Linked DNA regions of Homo sapiens: region 2 is linked to region 1. The links come from fine-mapping of genetic effects on gene expression. A gene starts in region 1. The other region holds a variant in brackets. All regions are shown on one strand. Distances are from middle to middle. Region 1 holds the start of RBM22 (RNA binding motif protein 22). Region 2 overlaps DCTN4 (dynactin subunit 4).

The links.
Region 2: its variant is fine-mapped to the expression of RBM22 in whole blood (TOPMed, PIP above 0.99).

The regions. Positions count from the first base shown.
Region 1 is chr5:150,694,412-150,705,540 of GRCh38, reverse strand. RBM22 (RNA binding motif protein 22) reads left to right here and starts at 4,479. Exons shown (of 11, transcript NM_018047.3): 1 at 4,479-4,609; 2 at 5,044-5,097; 3 at 6,270-6,299; 4 at 6,910-7,042; 5 at 8,650-8,750; 6 at 8,836-9,008; 7 at 9,835-10,035. The coding sequence starts at 4,556. RefSeq lists enhancers at 3,684-4,460, 4,461-5,237.
Region 2 is chr5:150,728,425-150,739,825 of GRCh38, reverse strand. It overlaps DCTN4 (dynactin subunit 4), which reads left to right. Exons shown (of 13, transcript NM_016221.4): 5 at 6,351-6,458; 6 at 8,337-8,410; 7 at 8,670-8,782; 8 at 9,086-9,195. Among named protein-coding and RNA genes, the nearest start is that of DCTN4, 25 kb to the left of the region's middle. RefSeq lists an enhancer at 4,668-4,897. The variant T/C (reference allele first, on the strand shown) is at 6,303.

The DNA.
Region 1 (11,129 bases):
TCTGCCTTCCTGTCTCTGGCCCTTCATTCTTCCCCAAGCCTAGCCACAGACACTGAATCCCTTTTCCTCAAGGTGGGTCATAGAGAGAACCCCTTTTCCCCAAAGCCAGCCATAAAATGTAAAATACTACTCTAGGCCGGGCGCGGTGGCTCACACCTGTAATCCCAGCACTTTGGGAGGCAGAGGCAGGTGGATCACAAAGTCAGGAGTTCGAGACCAGCCTGACCAACATGATGAAACCCTGTCTCTACTGAAAATACAAAAATTAGCCAGGCATGGTGGTGCGTGCCTGTAATCCCCGCTACTCAGGAGGCTGAGGCAGGAGAATTACTTGAACTTGGGAGGTGGAGGTTGCAGTGAGCCGAGATCGCACCATTGCACTCCAGCCTGGGCGACAGAGCAAGACTCTGTCTCAAAAAAAAAAAAAAAAAAAAAAACTACTCTAACTTCCGCCTTGCTTTTGTGTAAAAACTGGCTCTGAATAAATTATCTGAGCTACTTTGTTTTAGATTGTAGGTCATAAGACCCCCATTCCAAAGACGGTCCTGTACATACCCAGAAGGAAGGAATGCTGCCGAGAGAGGCCAAGAATCTAGACAGACAGGCCTCGCTGGGTTTCCCCACTCAGTCTATTAGCGCTAAATCAGTACGCTTTTTGTCCAATCCTATTTCTACATAGCTGTCCATACTTTGTTGAACCTAGGCATATAAATGGACAATTTCCCATCTGTGTCTTCATTCTGAAGGCTCCTATGTCAGGTAAAACTATGATCAAATAAATTTGTATGTCTTTTCTCCTATTAATCTGCCTTTTGCTAGTTAATTTTCAGTGAATCTTAAGAGGGCAAAGGGGAACTTTTCTGTTGGCCCCTACAATGTTAAAAAATCTGGTGGAAAACATGGAGCCAGGTGCCATGGCTCACACTTGTAATCCCAGCACTTTGGGAGGCCAAGGCTGGAGAATCACTTGAGCCCAGGAGTTCCGAGACCAGCTTGGGCAACATGGTGAGACCCTGTCTCTACAAAAAAGTTAAAAATTAGCTGGGCACCGTGGCCTGCTTCTATAGTCACAGCTACTTGGGAGGCTAAGGCTGGAGGATCCCTTGAACCCAAGAATTCCAGGTAACAGTGAGCTATGATCATGCCTGGGTGACAAAGTGAGACCCCCATCTCGAAAAAAAAGAAAAGGAAAATATGGATTATATATATTGTGAAAGGAAATTAAATCTTGGGACCCCAAACTCATTAAGCCAAAGGGAAAAGTCGAGCTGGGAACTGGGTCACACAAACCTGCCTCCTGCTTTTGGTTCCTAAATAAGATGGCTATAAGATGAAAAGCTACATGCCTCCCCCATATGTTGCCCAGTAATTCAGACCCTTCCATTAAACCAGCAAACCTTTTTCATTTACAATCTCATTGGACATGTTTGGTATTCCAGTGCTATGATCACTTAGCTTCAATCTTTGTACCACAGATAGGTATCGAAGATGTTATATGGCATATAGAGGCCATAACGAATTACACCCAAAGGCCCTAAATGGTAGCTGCATGAGTACCTCTTTGCTAAGCAATGAGGTCATGCTTATGAGGAAAGCTGTGTTGCAAAACTATGTGGCTTTAGATATACTCATGGCAGCACAAGGGGAACCTGTGCCACCGTAAAAACTGAATGTTGTGTGTATATTCCAGATGAATCAAAGAACATAAACTGAATTATGACCAGTATGAAAACCCAGATAAGCAACTGTCAGATCCAAAACCCTCACTAATCCATTGCTTGAGTGGTTGGTTTGGATCCTGGGGAATTTAGTGGCAGAAGCTATTGCTTATAATAGAAGGAATAATTTATGTTCTGTCCTGTTTCTGCTTACAATGTTGTTATAGTACGTGTTTGCAAATAAGTCAATATGCAACCGAAAGGGCTAAGGTAATGATTGCCCAGAGAATTGCTTTAATTGAGGAGGCAGTAATATAATAAAGCTTGACCCAGCTTCCAGGTTTGCTTTCCTTTTGTTGCTATAAATCTGGCCTAGTCCCTATATATATTTTTTCATCTCTTTTCTTTTTTCCTTTCTAGGAAAGTAAAATTCCTCACTAGGAATTTCCTTGTGGGCAAAATATGGGGGAGGCATGTAGCTTTCCATCTTGTAGCCATCTTATTTAGGAACCAAAAGCGGGAGGCAGGTTTGTGTGACCCACTTCCCAGCTTGACTTTTCCCTTTGGCTTAATGAGTCTGGGGTCCCAAGATTTAATTTCCTTTCACATTTCCCCCTTTTTTTCTTTAACATCTTTTGGAGAAAGCATTTTAAAAGGAATATGTGTTCCTGGCCTCAGTTCGCTTTTTCCTCCTTTTTTGAGCTGGTTTCTTGTCGCTAGGATGGTTTATTCCAGGAAATTCAGGTCTCACGTTACTAGGAAGGCTCATTCCTAGGAAGTCATGTTCCATGTTGCTAGGAAGGCTCATTCCTAGAAGTCATGTCCCACAAAGATTAAAAAATAAATTGGGGGAGGAAAGAGGGAAAAAGGAAGGAAAGGAGATGATTCTGAGGGCTCCAGACTTAAAGGAGAAAAGGGTCCTATCTCTTTTCTCTTAATGTTAAATGTTATTTTGTTTGTGGAATGTTCACTCTATAATATATATGTTGATTAAGTATACCATTATGCATGATTTGCAATATTGATTGACCTGTGGAGTGCCTTGAGCCTGTGTGTCCAAGACTCTGAGTGCTGAGTGAGTGGGAAGTACTAAGGAGAATTGCTTTCTTGGAAACTCCATGTAGTTCGTGGCTTTTGTGATTGAAATAGCATCAGTAAAAGTCTGGCATTGTGGAAAAACACAAATGTACGTGGACTCTGTTATTTCTGACCTTGCACTCCTCACAAGGCATGTGAAATTGGAGTCACAGATGTAGAAACCAGGCAGAAGACAGTCTGAAGAGATGATACTTGAGAATTTTCCAAATATAATAAAAGACAACAAATCACAGATCCAAGAAGCTCAGATAAACCCAAGGACTTTCTTATAAAGGAAAAGATATACTTACCATATGATCAAATAATCTCACTCTAAGGCATTTACACAAGCAAAATGAAAACCAATGTCCATACAACGATCTGTATGTGAATGTTTATAATGGTTTTATTTATATTCACTAAAATCTGGGAACAACCCAAATATCCAGCAACTGGCAAGTGAATTGTATGATATATCCATACAATGGAATTCTACTCAGTAATACAAAGGAAGAAATTATTGATACATGTAATAATATGGATGAATCTCAACTACAAAATACTAAGTGAAAAAATATCAGATCCAAAAGGATATATAGGATTCCACTTATGTGACATTCTGGAAAAGGCAAAACTAGGGACAGAACACAAATTAGTGATTGCCATGGTTTGAGTATGGGATAAGTGGACTAACTACAGAAACAAGGGAACTTTGGGGATGACAGACAATTCCATATTTGACTGTAAGTGAATGTATGTACAAAATTCAAAACTAAAAAGGATAAAACTTTATGTAAATTATACTTTAAATCAACTTTTTTTTTTAATGAGGTGATTTAAATAAATGTGTTAGGTAGCTTGATGACACGGTAAGTATGAAAGTGGTACCAGAATGGCTTGAAACTCATAAAATATTGGCAGAGTGGTTATGAGTTATTCCAAAAATCAAATAATGCATATGTTGATTCGTAAGACCCTTGTCATTTCAGAAGCTGGAAATGAAACAGTACTAATGAATTTGTGGCTTCACCACTTTTTAGCTCCACAACCAGGAGCTATATCAGGAGAGATTAGGTTAATCTCTCTAAACCTGTTTTCTTTTCTATAAAAGAGGGATCATCATACTTGCCTACAGGGTAGAGTTACCAGATAAAATACAGGACGATTGGTTAAGTGATGTGAATTTCAGGTCAACCACGAATCCTACTTTAGGACGAGTAGGTACCATATATATTTATAATTAAAAAGCGATTCGCCGTTAATCTGAAATTCAACTTTAGACGTTCTGTAATTCGTGCGTGTGTGTGTGTGCATGTGTGTGTGTGAGTGACAGAGAGAGAGAGAGAGAGAGAGAGAGAGAGAGAGAGACAGAATCAGAATCTGGCAGCCCTACAGAGAGCCCTACAGAGAGGTTATGCGAATAAATAAGACACTGGAACCGCAAGACGTTCGCCCAGAGTTTGGCATAATAAGCGCCTCAGTGGTAGCGAACGCTATTTTAACCCCAGCCTCTGATGCATTACGTCTTCCTTTATTCTTTCGCCCAATTGTTAAATGAATCAACTGTACGTGTGGCCCTTCATTCCAAGCAGGCAAAAACTCGAAGGAAGCATCCAGGTGCATTATACCAGGACCCCAATTGTTAAGCTTAGAAATTCCAAGAGCGGGCGACGTCATGACGCAAAGGCCCCGCCCCGGAAGAAGCCCTAGACGCGTAAATAAGACGCCGACCGGCGCGGCGCTAGCCTCGGGGCTTGACGGGATTGTGGCGGTCCTCTCTCCCAATTCGGAAGCTACAGCTACCTCCGGACGCTCTCAAGATGGCGACCTCTCTGGGTTCCAACACCTACAACAGGCAGAACTGGGAGGATGCGGTGAGTGTGCCTGCCGGAGGAGGATGGAAGGAGGAGGCGAAGCCGCGCACCTTGCAAGCTGGCAGGACAGGGCCTGCGGCGCGGCCGAAGGAATACCGGGGAGGAGCCAGCGCGGCGGCCTAGCTTGGCCGGAGCAGGAGGGCGGAGGGCGATCCTCCTGCGGGCTTGAAGGGAGGGGGCTTAGCCAGGGTCCCGGGACCAGCACCCTTTCCATCCCTGCCCCCTCCAGCCTATTAGAGCTGGTTTTCTTTTCTCCCGCCGCCTGCCGGAAGTGCAGACAGCGCCCCCTCCCGCGATCGGGTCGTGATGGACTTCGGGTTCCTGCCGTGCCTAGTTCCCCACCCTCGCTTCCCGCCCCCTCGCCACCCCAAGTGTCACTGAGGTGTCAGGGTCTTCGGAGGGTGGTCCTCAACCAGATTTCCCATTTTCACCAGGACTTCCCCATTCTGTGCCAGACATGTCTTGGAGAAAACCCATATATCCGAATGGTGAGTGATCGCGTGTGAAACGAGTTATTCATGTCCTGTCGATGTTGTGGTACTTGCACACTGTGAAGTGTTTCTCTTAGACAAGCAGAAAAAATGATGCTCTTTTACTAACGCGAAGTGCTGGACGACTTGCAAAGAACTGTCATGTGTATTCTCTTACGAATCCGGTAACACTCCTGTAATGTAGGGGTAATAACGATAGCTAGTATTTGTTGAGCATTTACCTAGGAAATAGGTCTGTTGACCAGAAGGTGAGAGCGTTTGTGTCTTTTCATACAATAGTAAGGAATGGAGCTGGGATTTAAGTTCACATATTCTGGCTCTAGGAATGTCAGCATGATAGGAGGAGAACCAGAACTAGAAACTAGGTTTCCTGAATCCTGGTCAAATGCCTTTTGGCCAGTGTACTTTATCTCTTTAAAGTAAGCATTCCCCCTTTGTTACAAACTAGGGTAAAATTAGAACCAGTTAACAATAATAAGGTTAGGGCTGTATTATTGTGTAGTCGTAGAGGTGTTGATATGTTAGTATGTTCACGATGTTTGAATGGTTCAAGATGTTTGAATAGTTCTGTTTAAACAGAACATTTACTATATTCCGGGCATTGGCACAGGACAAGTCTACAGTAGCTACCTTTTGACTAAACTTTGTAAAGTGGGCGGGCCACAGCTGTATCCTCTCTGATTTAGGGATTGTGGAAAGCATTAGGAATGTTAGTTCTTGGGAGTGAACTTGGGAGCCAAAAATGAACCTAAGAGTTGTGGCTGTGGAAAGACACTCACTTACCTAGCATTAGATGCATATACTCTATTTCTTTTTTCTGTAGAGACAGCATCTCGCTATGTTGCCCAGGCTAGTCTGGAACTCCTGGGCTCAAGCAATCCTTCCACCTTGGCCTCTCAAAGTGTTGGGATTACAGGCGTGAGCCACTGCCACCCAGCCCAGATCCATATACTCTTGAGATGTTATCACTTATAATATGTTGTTATAGTATGTTCCCTACCCTCTTCCCAAAAAAGGTTGGGTTTTGGGTTTTGTTGTTGCTGTTTTTCTCTCTCTAGGATGCCAGGGATTTCCAGACACATTTCTTGGGTTATGTTTAAGGAAAGAGTAGACATCTGGCTTTTTTCTTTCTGTAACTCCAGTTCTTTTCTATTTTTTTTCTATTATAGACCAAAGAAAAGTATGGGAAGGAATGCAAAGTAAGTATGTCTGTTAAAGAGTAATGATTTCTGTTTCATTTTTCTTTTCTCTACCAAATTAGCCTTCAGCTTACTAAGTTTTGAGGTCTTCCAGTAAAAATCAGTGCTATACAACTTTTTATGTATTACTGATATATTCATTGGCTGGCAACTGTTTATGTGGGAGGTAAGAAAATGAACCCTCTAATGTAGAGATTCTTACGGTGTCAGTGGATGGGCACTGGAGGAGTTTGTACACCAGGTGGTGTATGACTGTCCACTCGAGCATTTTAGCTGAGGAGGAAGGTCATTCTTGTCAGAAGCTTCTCAAAAAATTACATGACACTCCCCACTCCCCCTAAAAAAGATTAAGGTTCAGATTATTATTGGTGCTTAGCTCTAGGATGGGAAGAACTTTGACCCTTTGGCTATTTCATTTCTGTACTCTGAATTTTTGCTGGAGAAGGATGCTGAAAATTGTATTGAAACATCAAATCAACTAGATGATTGCTAAGGTCTCTTCTAAATCCTACATTCAGGGATCCTTTTTTGAATGCCCCGTTGTTATCAGATCTCCAGATTGCCCAGATCAGGACCATTGACATTCTATGGCTCTTGCTTTGTGTTCCAGATCTGTGCCAGGCCATTCACAGTGTTTCGCTGGTGCCCTGGAGTCCGCATGCGTTTCAAGAAGACTGAAGTGTGCCAAACCTGCAGTAAATTGAAGAATGTCTGTCAGACCTGCCTCTTAGACCTAGAGTATGGTATGTTTGACCTGTCCAATAAATCTGAAAGTGTGCAGGTGCCTAAAACTACAAGTCAGTCTTTTGTCTCCCACTTCGCACCCTAGCTCTGGTTCTGATTTCACTTTGGAATGTCTGCCGTGGTCTGCTTTTCCCAGGAAAAGAACCATAATTAGGCCACTCTAGAGTCCTGAACAATAGTAGGAACTTAAGGAAAAGTTGGGAATTAATCAAAAGTGGCCTAAACCTTCATCTCTGTAGCCCAAGTGAGGTAAAAGGCGTTGATCCTATGATAGATAATTTATTTGCCTTAGGCTTCTTTCTTGATCCAGAGCTTTTTTCCACCATCCCAATCAGAAGCTCACAGGGTAATTGTGCTTTATTTTATTTTATTTTTTGAGTTAGGGTCTCACTCTGACACCCAGGCTAGAGTACAGTGGTGTGATCACAGCTCACTGCAACTTCGAACTCCTGGGCTCAAGGGATCCTCTTGCCTCTGCCTCCTGGTATACCACCACACCCAGTGCACGTGTGTGTGTGTGTCACTATTTTGCCCAGGCTGGTTTTGAGCTTCTGGCCTCAAGCAGTCCTCCCACCTTGGCCTCCCAGAGCCACTATAGCCAGCCTAATTGTGCTTTAGACTTTTATTTCAATTGTGTTGTTAGAACTGATATATTGCTACTGTTTCAGAGTAACTGCTTTTGGGAGTAATTTTTTTTTTAACCATAGGTGACTGTTTTTCAGAAAGATAATTTTTCAACAAGAGTTTTTACTATTAAAGGAAAGGGAAAAATATATGAGTTTATGTATGTTAAGTTCATTAGAGTTACTCTTCTAGTCAGAGTCCTGGCCACATTTTATGTAATATTATTTATATGTTTGTTAAGGAGGCGTCTGGTCCTGGAGTACAGTGACCCTTAGATGACTGTGACTATCCAGAGGATCTGTAAGACTAACCTAGAAAGAAACCACTTTTACATTTACTTTAAATAAATCATGTTGTAATAAAAACTAGGAGCTAATTTACAGGTTGAATATGACCATGGGCACAGTTTGTTCATCTAAAAATTTTCTTTTATAATTTTTTTGTTTTTTGTTTTTGAGACAGGGTGTCACTCTGTTGCCCAGGCTGGAGTGCAGTGGCATGGTCATGGCTCACTGCAGCCTTAACCTTTCCAAGCTCAGGTGATCCACCTCAGCCTCCTGGGTAGCTAGGACTACAGGTGCATACCACCACACCCAGCTAATTTTTGTATTTTTTGTAGAAATGGGGTTTCACCACGTTGACCAGGCTGGTCTCGAACTCCTGGACTCAAGCTATCTGTCAGCTCCAGCCTTGCAAAGTGCTAGGATTACAGGCATGAGCCACCACACCCAGCCTAAAAGATTTTTTCTAAAGCATTAATTTCATCAAATTTCCTGACAGTTCAGGAATTTGGACAATTTCTTAGCATGCTGTGTAGCAGAAGTAACCTGATGGTGCTAAAGAGTTTGAATAAAAACATAGTAAAGTCTCTGGTACTAAATAGGAAAGAGGAGAAGGGAAAGATGATGTATTCTGTGTGCATGGTTAGTATGGATATGTTTTAAAATACATCTGAGGTCTTTTTCCTCTTTTTTTGTACCAGGCCTGCCCATCCAGGTTCGTGACGCAGGATTGTCTTTTAAAGATGACATGCCAAAGTCAGATGTCAACAAAGAGTACTATACACAGAATATGGAGAGAGAGGTATGCTGCCACTTTTTGGATAAAAATCCTAATGAATTGACACAGTCTGTATAATTTATCTTTTGAATTTGTCATCCCCACTTAGATTTCTAACTCTGATGGAACACGGCCAGTTGGCATGCTGGGGAAAGCCACATCTACCAGTGACATGCTGCTCAAACTGGCCCGGACCACACCCTACTACAAAAGGAATCGACCCCACATTTGCTCCTTCTGGGTGAAAGGAGAGTGTAAGAGAGGAGAGGAATGTCCATACAGGCAAGAGCGAGCCTCATTTTCAGTATTTGCTTTCAGATGATTTCTCATCTAAGAAGTGGGAGGTCCTAACTTAAACTGTTTCTGCTTTAAAATCTAAAGGTCATACAACTAATGTGGTATACCTCATGTCTTAGAACTATGAAATTTAGAAGAGCATGAATAAATTGTAGTTTTTACTTACAATTGAGCCTTGGAAACTAAATTGCTATGCCATACAATATAGATGCTGACCCTAAACATTTCTGCCTGAGAAGTAAATCTTCACTGCCATGGTTTAAATGAGTTGACTCTCAATGTATAGTTGAAGTCAAAGTAAGGTCAGACTTCTAAAGGGTGTGTATGTTTTGGTTAAGACTGCCAAGCATCTGGATTAGGAGTTCTTAATTTGGGATTGGTTAACCCCACCCCCTAAAAAATAATGTATGTGCTTTCTCTGGGGCGAGGTTCATAGCTTTAATCAGATTCTCAGTGGAATACAGCACCCCAAATGTGTTAAGAATCATTGACCTAGAGAGGGGTAATCATGTGTCCCTTTCTGGGGGGCGGGAGGGGGTGGATCATGTCAAGAGTATTTATTTATAAGGAAAGTTTGGCATCCTAGATGGCCTAATGGCTTTTAGGAGGCTAGTAATTCCTTCCGTGATACAGTAAATCTCTTGGTATTAGGTCTATTTTGGTAATTATATTTTGGTAGAAACCATAGTTTCTAGTTCAAAAGGCACTTCAGAATATGTATCTAGGACTTTAATATGTAGCTACTCTTGGAAGATAATCATTTTTTCACCTTCGTTTCACCTTTATGCCTTGTTTTTTTCTTGAATCATAGACATGAGAAGCCTACAGATCCAGATGACCCCCTTGCTGATCAGAATATTAAAGACCGTTATTACGGAATCAATGATCCTGTAGCTGACAAGCTTCTAAAGCGGGCTTCAACAATGCCTCGGCTGGACCCACCAGAGGATAAAACTATCACCACACTATATGTTGGTGGTCTAGGTGATACCATTACTGAGACAGATTTAAGGTTTGTGGGTATAAGTTAGAGAGTTATTTTTGCCTTTAACTGCCCTGGAATAATTTATTTGCAAAAACTGCAAGAATGATCATTCTGTACAAAATACATTTTTCTGTAGTCTCTCTATTGTTAGTATCATGCTGACTGGAATTTTTGTAAAATTGTCCTTTATGGTGCCACAGTAATAATGTGCTTATGTGGCTGGGCACAGTGCCTCATGCCTGTAATCTCAACACTTTGGGAGGATCTCTTGAACCGAGGAGTTTGAGACCAGCCTGAGCAACATAGTGAGACCACATCTCTACTAAGAAATCAAAAAAATTAGCCGGGTGTGGTGGCATGTGCCTGTAGTCCCAGCTGTTTGGGAGGCTGAGGCAGGAGGATTGCTTGAGCTTGGGAGATCAAGGCTGCAGTGAGCTGTGATTGCACCACTGCACTCCAGCCTAAGCAACAGAGTGAGACCCTGTCTCAGAACCAAAGCTCAAAGAGTGCTTATCCATCCTGGCATATGGTAATAATGACATAGGATTCTATTTGACCTAACAGCCAAGTTTTAAAGGATGGCACGCATCCAAGTATGATGAATTATGTAGAGGAGGGAGAGCTTTGCGATGATAAAACTCTTGTGGTTTAAATTGTTGGTTTTTAAAGAGACTGGCATTTGATAAATTTGTGTTATTTTTGGCTTGTATTATGCTTGGCTAGATGAGACTTCTGGGCAGATAGTAATGGAAATTACCTCTTCCAAAGAGATAAAGTGGAGAAGAAACTCCTGTAAGTTTATAACCTGCCCTTGGTAGCCTGTCTCCATTAAACCCTATCTAAGTGAGCTAGACAACCCCCAGGGGTTGGCAGACTTTCGCTGTAAGAGGCTGGATGGTGAATATTTTAGGCATTGTGGGCCACATGCAGTCTCTGTCACGTATTCTTGTTTTAAACTTTCTTGGCTCATGGGCCTTGAGAGCTATGGTTTGCCAACCTCTTATCTAGGGTTTAGGGTCTTTAAAGAACCTATTAGAACCCCCTTTCCTCCATGGGAAAAAACCCTGAGATGTTTGAGAACCTTTATTTACTCATTATTTTTCTTTCCTTCTCTCAATCAG
Region 2 (11,401 bases), 34 kb before region 1:
CCCAGTTTATGTTTTTGTTTGCTTTGTCAAAGATCAGTTGGCTATAAGTATTTGGTTTATTTCTGGGTTCTCTATTCTGTTTCATTGATCTGTGTGCCTATTTTTATACCAGTATTATGCTGCGTTGGTGACTATAGTCTTATATATAGTTTGAAGTCAAGTAATGTGATGCCTCCAGAGTTGTTCTTTTTGCTTAGTCTTGCTTTGGCTATGTAGGCTCTTTTTTGGTTCCATGTGAATTTTAGGATTGTTTTTACTAGTTCTGTGAAGAATGATGATGGTATTTTGGTGGGAATTGCATTGAATTTGCAGATTGCTTTGGCAGTATGGTCATTTTCACAGTATTTATTCTACCCAGCCATGAGCATGGGATATGTTTCCATTTGTTTGTGTTATCTGTGATTTCTTTCAACAGTGTTTTGTAGTTTTTCTTGTAGAGGTCTTTCACCTCCTTGGCTAGGTATATTCCTAAGCATTTTGTTTTTGTTTTTTGGGTGGGGTTTTTGCGGCTGTTGTAAACAGGGTTGAGTTCTTGATTTTATTCTCAGCTTGGTCACTGTTGGTGTATAGCAGTGCTACTGATTTCTGTACATTGATTTCATATCCTGAAACTTTACTGAATTCAAAACTTTTTTTTTTTTTTTTGAGATGAAATCTCTCTCTGTCAGCCAGACTGGAGTGCAATGGTGCAAACTCAGCTCACTGCAACTTCTGCCTCTCAAGTTCCAGCGATTCTCTTACCTCAGCCTCCTGAGTAGCTGGGATTACAGGCGCCCGCTACCACGCATATTTTTAGTGCAGATGGGGTTTTACCATGTTGGCCAGGCTGGTCTCGAGCTCCTGACCTCAAGTGATCTGTCCACCTCGGCCTCCCAAAGTGTTCGGGTTACAGGCATGAGCCACTGTGCCCAACCTTTTATTGAATTCATTGATCAGATCTAGGAGCTTTTTGGATAAGTCTCTAGGGTTTTCTAGGCATACGATCATATCATTGGCAAACAGCAACAGTTTGACTTCCTCTTTACTGATTTGGATGCCCTTTATTTCTTTCCTTGTCTGATTGCTCTGGCTAAGACTTCCAGTACTGTGTTGAATAGAAGTGGTAAAAGTGGGCATCCTTGTCTTGTTCCAGTTCTCAGCTGGAATGTTTTCAACTTTTCCCTGTTCAGTATAATGTTGGCTCTGTGTTTGTCGTAGATGGCTTTTACTTAAGGCATGTTCCTTCTATGCTGATTTTGCTGAGGGTTTTGCTCATAAAGGATGCTGGATTTTGTCAAATGCTATTTCTCTGTCTATTGAGATGATCCTGTGATTTTTGTTTTTAATTCTGTTTATGTGGTGTATTACATTTATTGACTTGGGTATTTCAAACCATCCCTGCATCCCTGGTATTAAACCCACTTGATCATGGTGTATTATCTTTATGATATGCTGTTGGATCCAGTTAACTAGTATTTCGTTAAGGATTTTTGCATCCATGTTCATCAGGGATATCTGTCTGTAGTTTTCTTGTTTTGTTGTGTCCCTTCCTGGTTTCGGTATAAGGGCGATGCTGGATTCATAGAATGATTTAGGGAGGATTCCCTCTTTATCTTTTGGAATAGTTTCAGTAGGATTCATAAAAATTATTCTTTGAATGTCTGATAGAAATCAGCTGTGAATCCATCTGGTCCTAGGCTTTTTTTTTGTGGACAGTTTTTTTTAATTACCATTTCAATCTCACTGCTTGTTACTGGTCTGTTCAGAGTTCCTATTTCTTCCTGGTTTAATCTAGGAGGGTTGTATATTTCCAGGAATTTATCCATCTCCTCTAGGTTTTCCAGTTTGTGTGCATAAAGGTGTTCATGGTAGCCCTGAATGATCTTTTCTGTTTCTGTGGTATCAGTTGTAATATCTCCCATTTCATTTCTAATTGAGCTTATTTGGATCTTCTCTCATCTTTTCTTGGTTAATCTCACATTCTATCAATTTGGTTTATCTTTTCAAAGAGCCAGCTTTTCGTTTCATTTATCTTTTTTATTGTCTCTTTTGTTTCAGTTTCATTTAGTTCTGCTCTCATCTTTGTTATTTCTTTTCTTCTGCTAGGTTTGGGTTTGGTTTGTTCTTGTTTCTCTGGTTCTTTAAGGTATGACCCTAGATTGTCTCCTGTACTCTTTTAGACTTTTTGATGTAGGTATTTAATGCTATGAACTTTCTTCTTAGCACTGCTTTTGCTGTATCCCAGAGCTTTTGATAGGTTGTGTCTCACTATTATCATGCAGATCAGAGAGTTTTTAAATTTCCATCCTGATTTCATTGTTGACCCAGTGATCATTCAGAAGGAGATTATTTAATTTCCATGCAATTTGCATCGTTTCAAGAGTTCCTTTTGGAGGTGATTTTCCATTTTATTCCACTGCTGTCTGAGCGAGTACTTCATATAATTTCAGTTTTCTTAAATGTATTGAGACGTGTTTTGTGGCCTCTCGTATGTTCTATCTTAGAGAATATTCTATGTGCTAATGAATAGAATGTATCTTCTGCAGTTGTTGGGTAGAATGATCTGTAAATATCTGTTAAGTCCATTTGTTCTAGGGTATAGTGTAAGTCCATTGTTTCTTTGTTGACCATCTATCTTGATGACCTGTCTAGTGCTGTTGGTGGAGCGTTGAAGTCCCCCACTATTTTTGTGTTGCTTTGTATCTCATTTCTTAGGCGTAGTAGTAATTGTTTTATAAATTTTGGAGCTCCAGTGTTAGGTGCATATATATTTAGGATTGTGATATTTCCTGTTGGACTAGTCCTTTTATCATTATATAATGTCCCACTTTGTCTTTTTTAACTGTTGTTGCTTTAAAGTCTGTTTTGTCTGATATAAGAATAGCTACTCCTGCTCACTTTTGGTGTCCATTTGCATGGAATATCTTTTTTTACCCCTTTACCATAAGTTTATGTGAGTCCTTAGGTGTTAGGTGAGTCTCTTGAAGACGGCAGATACTTGGTTGGTAAATTGTTATCCATTCTGTAATTCTGTATTTTTTAAGTGGAGCATTTAGGCCATTTACATTTAACATTAGTATTGAGATGTGAGGTACTATTCTATTCATTGTGCTAGTTGTTGCCTGAATACTTAGATTTTTTTTTTCATTGTGTTATTGTTTTATAGGCCCTGTGAGACTTATGCTTTAAGGAGGTTATATTTTGGTGTGTTTCAAGGTTTTGTTTCAGGATTTAGAACTCCTTTGAGCACCTCTTGTAGTGCTGGCTTGGTACTGACAAATTCTCTCAGCATTTGTGTGTCTGAAAAAGACTTTATCCTTCATTCATTTACAAAGCTTAGTTTCGCTGGATACAGAATTCTTGGTTGATAATTGTTTTGTTTAAGGAGGCTAAAGATAGGACCCCAGTCCCTTCTAGCTTGTAGGGTTTCGCCAAGAAATCTGCTGTTAACCTGATAGGTTTTCCTTTATAGGTTATCTGATGTTTTTGCCTCATAACTCTTAAGATTCTTTCCTTTGTCTTGACTTTAGATAACCTGATGACTGTGTGCCTAGGTGGTGATCTTTTTGCGATGAATTTCTCAGGTGTTCTTTGAGCTTCTTGTATTTGGATGTCTAGATCTCTAGCAAGGCCAGGGAAGTTTTCTTCTATTCTTTCCTCAAGTAAGTTTTCCAAACCTTTAGATTTCTCTTCTTCCTTGGGAACACCAATTCTTAGTTTTGGTAGCTTAATATAATCCCAGACTTCTTAGAGGCTTTATTTTTTATTATTATTGTTATTATTCTTTTTTCTTTGTATTTGTCAGATTGGGTTAATTCAAAAGCCTTGTCTAAGTGTGTCTGTCATTTCAAAAATTGTGATTGTTTATTATTTATGCTGTCTTTCTCTGGAGATTTTTTTTGTCCATAACCTGTATTTTTTTTTTTTTTTTTAATTCCCTTAAGTTGGTTTTCACCTTTCTCTGGTGCCCCTTTGAGTAGCTTTTTGAGTAGCTTAATAGTTGGCCTTCTAAATTTTTTTTCTGACAATTCAGAGTTTTCTTCTTGGTTTGGATCCATTGCTGGTGAACTAGTGTAATCTTTTTGGGGTGTTAAAGAACCTTGCTTTGTCATATTACCAGAATTGTTTTTCTGGTTCCTTCTCATTTGGGTAGACTATGTCAGAGGAAAGATCTGGGGCTTGAGGGCTACTGTTCAGATTATTTTGTCCTACGACATTGTTCCTTGATGTGGTGCTCTCCCCCTGTGGCTTCCTGAGAGCTGGACTGCAATTATTGTTATTGCTGCTCTGGGTCTAGCCACCCGGCCAGAGCTATCAGTCTCCGAGCTGGTACTGGGGAGTGTCTGCAAAGAGTCCAGTGATGCAGTCCGTCTTCAGGTCTCTCAGTTGTGGATACCAGCACCTGCTCTGGTGGAGATAGCAGGAGAGTGAAGTGGACTCTGTGAGGGTCCTTGGTTGTAGTTTGGTTTCGTATGCTAGTTTTCTTTAATGCTGGTTGTGCTAGCAGTGAATTGTCACGTGGACAGACTCAGGACCTCTGGTTAGCCAGGATGTCACAGGTGGTGGAATTAGCTGTTGTTTTCTCCTTTTGAGGGCAGGGTTGTTCTTTTATGAGTTGCTATAATGAGTTGGTTGGCCTCCAGCCAGGAGGTGGCGCTTTCAAGAAAGCATCAGCTGCAGTAGTGTGGTGGGGATACAAGCTTGCCCTAAGGTTGCCTGGATAAGTATTTGGGTTTCCCAGGTGATCAGTGGGGCCATAAAGCTCCCAAGAGTTTACAGTCTTTTGTCTTGGGCTACCAGGGCAGGTAGAGAAAGACCATCAGGTGGGGGCATATCTGAGCTCAGAATCTCCTTGGGCAGGGTTTGCTGCAGCTGCTGTGAAGGACAGTTGTGTGGTTCTCAGGCCAATGGAGTTATGTTCCCAGGGGGATTATGGCTGCCTCTGCTGTGTCATACTGGTGGCCAGGGAAGTAGGGGAAAGCCAGCAGTGACAGGCTTCACCCAGCTCCCATGCAGCCAGCAAGGCCAGTCTCACTCCCACCATGCCCCACCAACAGCATGGGGTTTGCAGGGCCAAGATTTTGGCCCAGGCTACAAGCCTACTTGCTGAAAAAGCAAGCTAGCCTTTTGGACTCCGCCCCTTCCCGACTGCTGTGGCTTATGTGCTCATATCTGTACTTCCCCTTTACGCCTTCCCCATCTTGATTGTGCCCAGGAAAATTTGCTCTCCGTCAAAGTTATTACAAAGTTCACCTGGAAGTTTCTGTCTCCAAGTGGTCCTTCCTCAGTTCCACTGGCAGCACTCCCCAAGGACCCCTGTGAGATTAAAGTCAGAAATGACTTCCCTGGGCTTCACTGGGAACCGGGAGTGCCTACAGGGCTCTTCCCGCTGTTGCTTCTTCTATTTTTATATTTCACTCGGCTCTCTAAATTTTGTTTCAGCACTAGGTAAGGTTAAATTTTTCTCCCATGATCTGGATTTTTAGGTTCTCCAGTGAGGATGTGTGTTTGAAGGTGGATTTTCCCCCTCTTACACATGGGCACTCACAGATTTTCTGCTGTCTCATGGATTTTGCAGCAGCAAGCCACTTCTTTTAAAGGGTCTGTGAATTCTTTCAGTTTTCCTAGTATGTTCCTGCAGTAGTTCTTGGAATAAAAATTCACAGTGTGAGTCTCCACATGTTGTTCTGTCTGTCTGAGGGGAAGCTGCAAGTTAGTCCTGCCTCCTATCTGCCATTTTTTTTTTGCCACCTCATCCTCTTGAGTAGCTGGGACTATAGGCATACACCACCATGCCCAGCTAATTTTTGCATTTTTTTATAGAGACAAGGTCTCACTCTGTTGTCCAGGCTGGTTTTGAACTCCTGGCCCCAAGTGATCTACCCACTTCAGCCTCCCAAAGTGCTGGAATTGTAGGCGTGAGCCACTGTGCCCATCCTGGTTTGAACTTTTTATGATTAATATGTATTGCTTTTATAATTAAAATGTATTTTAAAAATTAAAAAGTGTGATGGAGTTGGGGAATAAAATACAGTATAAAATGCTATGTTCTTAGAAATAAGTGGTCCTGTGGCCATGCAGAAAAAAAATAAGAGCAGTTGTGAGGGGAAATAAGTAATGAAGTTAGAGAGCAAAAAATTTCCAAGCCTCTTCATTGCCCATTTCTTCCCATCCTTGAACTTCAGTTTTCCATTTCACTTCGGAAAACAGATCACATAACGAAGAAAAATTATCTTAGAAGAAAAAGGGCAAACTTGCCCATCTTAATAATTTGTCTTCTCTATTCATTATGTGTCTAGTCAGTGTAGTTGATTAATTTGATA[T/C]GTTTTCTGTTAGCTTTTTTGTGTACTGAGTCTGTGATTTTCTTACAGATGAACAAATTGATTGAATATTACCAGCAGCTTGCTCAGAAAGAGAAGGTTGAGCGAGATCGCAAGAAACTGGCACGACGTAGAAACTATATGCCTCTGGCTTTTTCGGTGAGAATTTGGTACTAAAATGATTTGCAAGACCTCTAAGGCCTAAGAACAGTGATCATTTCAGAAAATGGCCATTGTCCTAGATTCCTGAATGGTGGATATCAGAGAGAGGGATTCTTCAAATTATAGACGTTTAAGTCCAATAGTTAGGCTTTTGCTATATCATTAGTTCTGTTTGAGTTATTTGTGTTTTGAGGACATTTGTGTTTCTTTCTCCATCACTCCCCTTTATCTTCTGATTATTTCCCCAGAAAGGCTGTTAATTTTGTAGGCACTGCAGAGTTCCACGTACAGCTTTTGTGTATTACAGAAAGTCTGAGAAGAAGGAGGTGGGCAAATGGTAGATTTCAGTCATATTACCCCTGTAGCCCACCTTTGACATCCTGGCAGTAGTGGTTTCTCAGCTTTAGTTATAATTTTTTTAACATCCTCCCCTGTTTCTCCAAGATGAAAAACACTGACTTTTTACATAGTGCACTTGTGTGGTTAAATAGTAATATATGCAAGTAGAATTTTTGATAAGAATTATTTATGAGAGTCATTCTCTACCAGTTTACGTACTGCTAGTAAGAAGAAAGAAATTAGGATTTGGAATTTTTGTTATTTTACCCCGAGTTTTATTTGCTCTCATAGTACAGTTTGTTTTCTGTGTGCTTGCTTGGGGCCCAGCAAATTGACATTCAATAAATAACATTTATTGAATGGCAATGATGTGTCAAGCTCTGTGCTAAATAAACACTTTACATGTATTACTTTACTTAATCCTCACAAAAATCCTGTGGAGTATCATATCCCCATTTTACGCTTGAGGAAATGGGACCTAGTTAAGCAACTTGTCATACTGCATCCACATGAAAATTAGTTAAGTCATTGAAACCCTAAGGGTTGGTAAAGTCCATATAAAAATACCTAGATTAAGCTGGGTGCAGTGGCTCACGCCTGTAATCCCAGCACTTTGGGAGGCTGAGGCGGGGGGATCACTTGAGGTCAGGATTTCAAGACCAGTCTGGCCAACATGGCGAAACCCTGTCTCTACTAAAAATACAAAAAATTAGCTGGGCATGGTGGCGCACGCCTATAATCTCAGCTACTTGGGAGGCTGAGGCATGAGAATCGCTTGAACCCAGGAGGCGGAGGTTGCAGTGAGCCAAGATAGCGCCACTGCACTCCAGCCTGGGTGACGGAGTGAGACTCTGTCTCAAAAAAAATCTAGATTAGAATTTAAAAACATTAACACTTGCAAAGCACCTACATTTGCAAAAAGAAGTGAATTTTTCTGAATAGTCCAGTGGTATAGTCAGCATATGCACCAATGTGTGTTATATTTAGAGGTAGAATTTGAATTAAATGAATTATTCTTCCAATTTTCCCATATAACCTGCCTGCTATATGCGTTTGCTTCTATCTTATGCTGCATTTTTTGTCTCTGTTGCAACCTGCTGCTATTTTGGGGCTCTACAGCAACATACTATTCATGTAGTGGTAAGTTCTCCTTTATGATTCTTGCTGACCCTGAAGAAGTTAGCAGATGACCACTGGTGTTCCAGGAAGACGTCTGTTGTGTATCTTAGACACTCCACATAGTTCTTGCCTGAGCCGTAGCTTAGATACTTTTAGATTACTAGCAGAAGCTCACATTTGGTTCATTTTTACTGTATTAATATAGTTTCAATCTCCATGTTTAGTGCTGTTATTATTTTAAGAATAGAATAATGATGTGGGGCTACAAATTGCTTTCTTTAAAAGAAGCCTTTAGATTAGCTTTTTTTTTGCTTATTTCCCTGAGCTTCTCATGCTATCCTACCCAAAATTCTTTCTTTTGATAAATAGGGTGTGTAAAAGTGGACTTTCTAATAGGAATTTCTGAACTTTGTTTAGGACAAATATGGTCTTGGAACCAGGCTTCAGCGACCACGAGCTGGTGCATCCATCAGTACCCTTGCCGGACTTTCGTAAGTTTAGACATGAAATGACTTTGAGGAGAACAGCAGGTATCAAAATGAATATCAAATAAATGAGATTAAAACACACACACACACACAGTTGTCAATGGAAAAGAAGATTCTCATACTTAGAAAAGACCTACGCTATACAGATATTCTATGACAGAGGAATACTTCAATTATTGATATCATAGACTGAGGATAATCAGGTGGATCCGTGAGAAATTACTCTTTTGTTTTGTTTTGTTTTGTTTTTTTAATTTTTCAGCCTTAAAGAAGGAGAGGATCAGAAAGAGATAAAGATTGAGCCAGCTCAGGCTGTGGATGAAGTGGAACCTCTACCTGAAGACTATTATACAAGACCAGTAAATTTAACAGAGGGTAATTTTCTGTGTTTTTCTACTTTGTTTCTAGTCTACATCTAATTCTGTTTTTGTTATTTATGTACCTAGTGATTTGAGATTTTTAATGGAATAGCTGTTAGTAGTAAAAACAATATGTAGAAAATAAAACAGCTGTAATAGAGGTAATTGTTTGAAATCTAAAATGTCAACTTTCTATATTTTCATTTTTATGAACAACACTGTTCGTAAAGGCAGTAATGCTTCGTGTAATTACTGGTACATAAAAGTCTGATTTTGAAAGTCACTGTAAACTAAGCCTGTTTTCTGCCTTTCTTTCTAGTAACAACCCTTCAGCAGCGTCTGTTACAGCCTGACTTCCAGCCAGTCTGTGCTTCACAGCTCTATCCTCGCCACAAACATCTTCTGATCAAACGGTCCCTGCGCTGCCGTGTAAGTATTCCATTCTGTAGACTGACCATTTGTACAAGAGGAAAGCAAAAATAAATGTGGCTGGTGTCTGACTAATGTCAAAACCTTTGGAATGTATTAAATACAGAAAATACTTGTAGAGAACATACTAATTGCCAGGCACTATTTTAAATGCTTTCAATATAAACAGCTCTTACAACTCTGTGAGGTAGGTACTACTGTTAAACCTGTTTTACAAATGTAGAAAATGAAGTATCTGAAGGTTAAGTACATAGGGTTAACCCCTAAAAGAATAGTGAAAGAGTGTGAACTTTTAGGCTAGTGTTCAGGCTCAGGGAGGACCAATAAAAAATAATCAATTTAAAAGAAAGCAAGAAAAATCAGCAAAATCCAGGCTCTGGTAATCTACAGAACAAATGACAGAGTTTCTTCAATAAATAAATTGTAAAAACAAAATGGAAAAGAAACCTTTTAGAGGAGTACTATCCAACAGAACTTTCTATGGTGATGGAAGTATTCTGTGTCTGTACAGTCCCGCATGATAGCCACTAGGCACATGTGGCTCTTGAGCACATGAAATGTGATAGTGCAGCTGAGGTACTGAGTCAGTCTTTAATTTCATTTAAATAACCACATGTCGCTAGTGGCTAATGTTACTTAATCATTCTCTAGATTAGAAGAGACTTAAAAGTTTACCAAACACAATGTATAGAGTTTACGTAGATTCGGATTCAAACAAAACAGAAAGAAAGGGCCCAGGGGAGGAGGGAAGAAGGGAAAGAGGAAAGAAGGAAAGAAAAATTTGTGAAATCTTTGAGAAAATTTAAACACTGGTAGCATTTTCGATGCTATTAAAAAACTATTGGGCAGGGCACAGTGACATGCACTTGTAGTCCCAGCTACTCTGGAAGCTGAGGCAGGAGAATCCCTTGAGCCTGAGGAGTTTGAGACTGTAGTGTGTGATGATGGTGCCTGTGAATAGCCACTGCACTCCAGCCTAGGCAACACAGAAAGACCCTGTCTCTTAAAAAAAAAAAAAAAGTATTTTTTCTTTTTTAGGAATAATGATAGTACTTTGTTTGTTTGTTTTTTAATGTCTTTATCTTTTGGAGATACATACAGAAATATTTATGGAGGAAATGACTTGGTCTCTGATATTTGTTGCAAAATAATGAGGGATGAGGAATGGGTAAGAGTATAAATGAAACAAGATTGGCCATTGTTGCTAATTTTTGATAACAAGATGCTGATTCTTTTTGTTTGTTTAACCTGAGAGCATAGATTCAAGTCCTGCATATATATTCCGAAGTTGATAATCGTTGAAGTTGGGTGATGGGTACCTAGAGATTTGTAATACCATTCTATATTTTTGTACACGTTAGAAAATTTCTATAATGAAAAACCTTTATAAAAAGAAAGAAAAAGAAGGGGCAAAGGAACATTGAATTGGTAGTTCAAATAGAAAGCCTGGGCTCATGCCTGTAATCACAACACTTTGAGAGGCCAAGGCAGGAAGATCACTTGAGCCCAGGAGTTTGAGATCAGCCTAGGCAACATAGTGAGACCCTGTCTCTACCAAAAAAAAAAAAAAAAAAAAAAAAAAAAAAAAGCCAGTGTGGTGGTTCACACACTTGTAGTCCCAGCAAGTCAGGAGGCTGAGGCAGGAGAATTGCTTGAGCCCAGGAAGTTGAGGCTGCTGTGAGCAGTAATCACACCACTGCACTCCAGCCTGGGTGACGAAGCAAGACCCTGTCTGTTAAAAAAAAAAAAAAGATTGTGTGTGGTAAGATAGTAGATTAAAATCCAGATGTATCAGTATTTACATTAAATACCAATGAACTAAATGCTTCCATTAAAAGACAAACATTGTCAGTCTAAATAATAAAGCAAATTGCAGTGATCCATCTATATGCTTATTACAAGAAGCACAAACATGAGAACTCAGAAAAGTTGAAAGTAGAGAGAAGTGGGAAAAATATTGGACAAACACTAATTTTTTTAAAAGAGGGATAATTTGTTTAAAAAAAAGATTCAATTTACAAAGAAGATATAACCGTCTAAAGTCATGTGCACTGAATAATAGACTCAAAATATATAAAGCGACATTTGAGAAAATTACATAAATGGACAAATCATTTTGGGAAATTTTGACATACTTCTCTCAGTAACCGAGAGAACAAATAGATGAAAATCAGTAAGAATATAGAACATTTGGACAATTTATCTA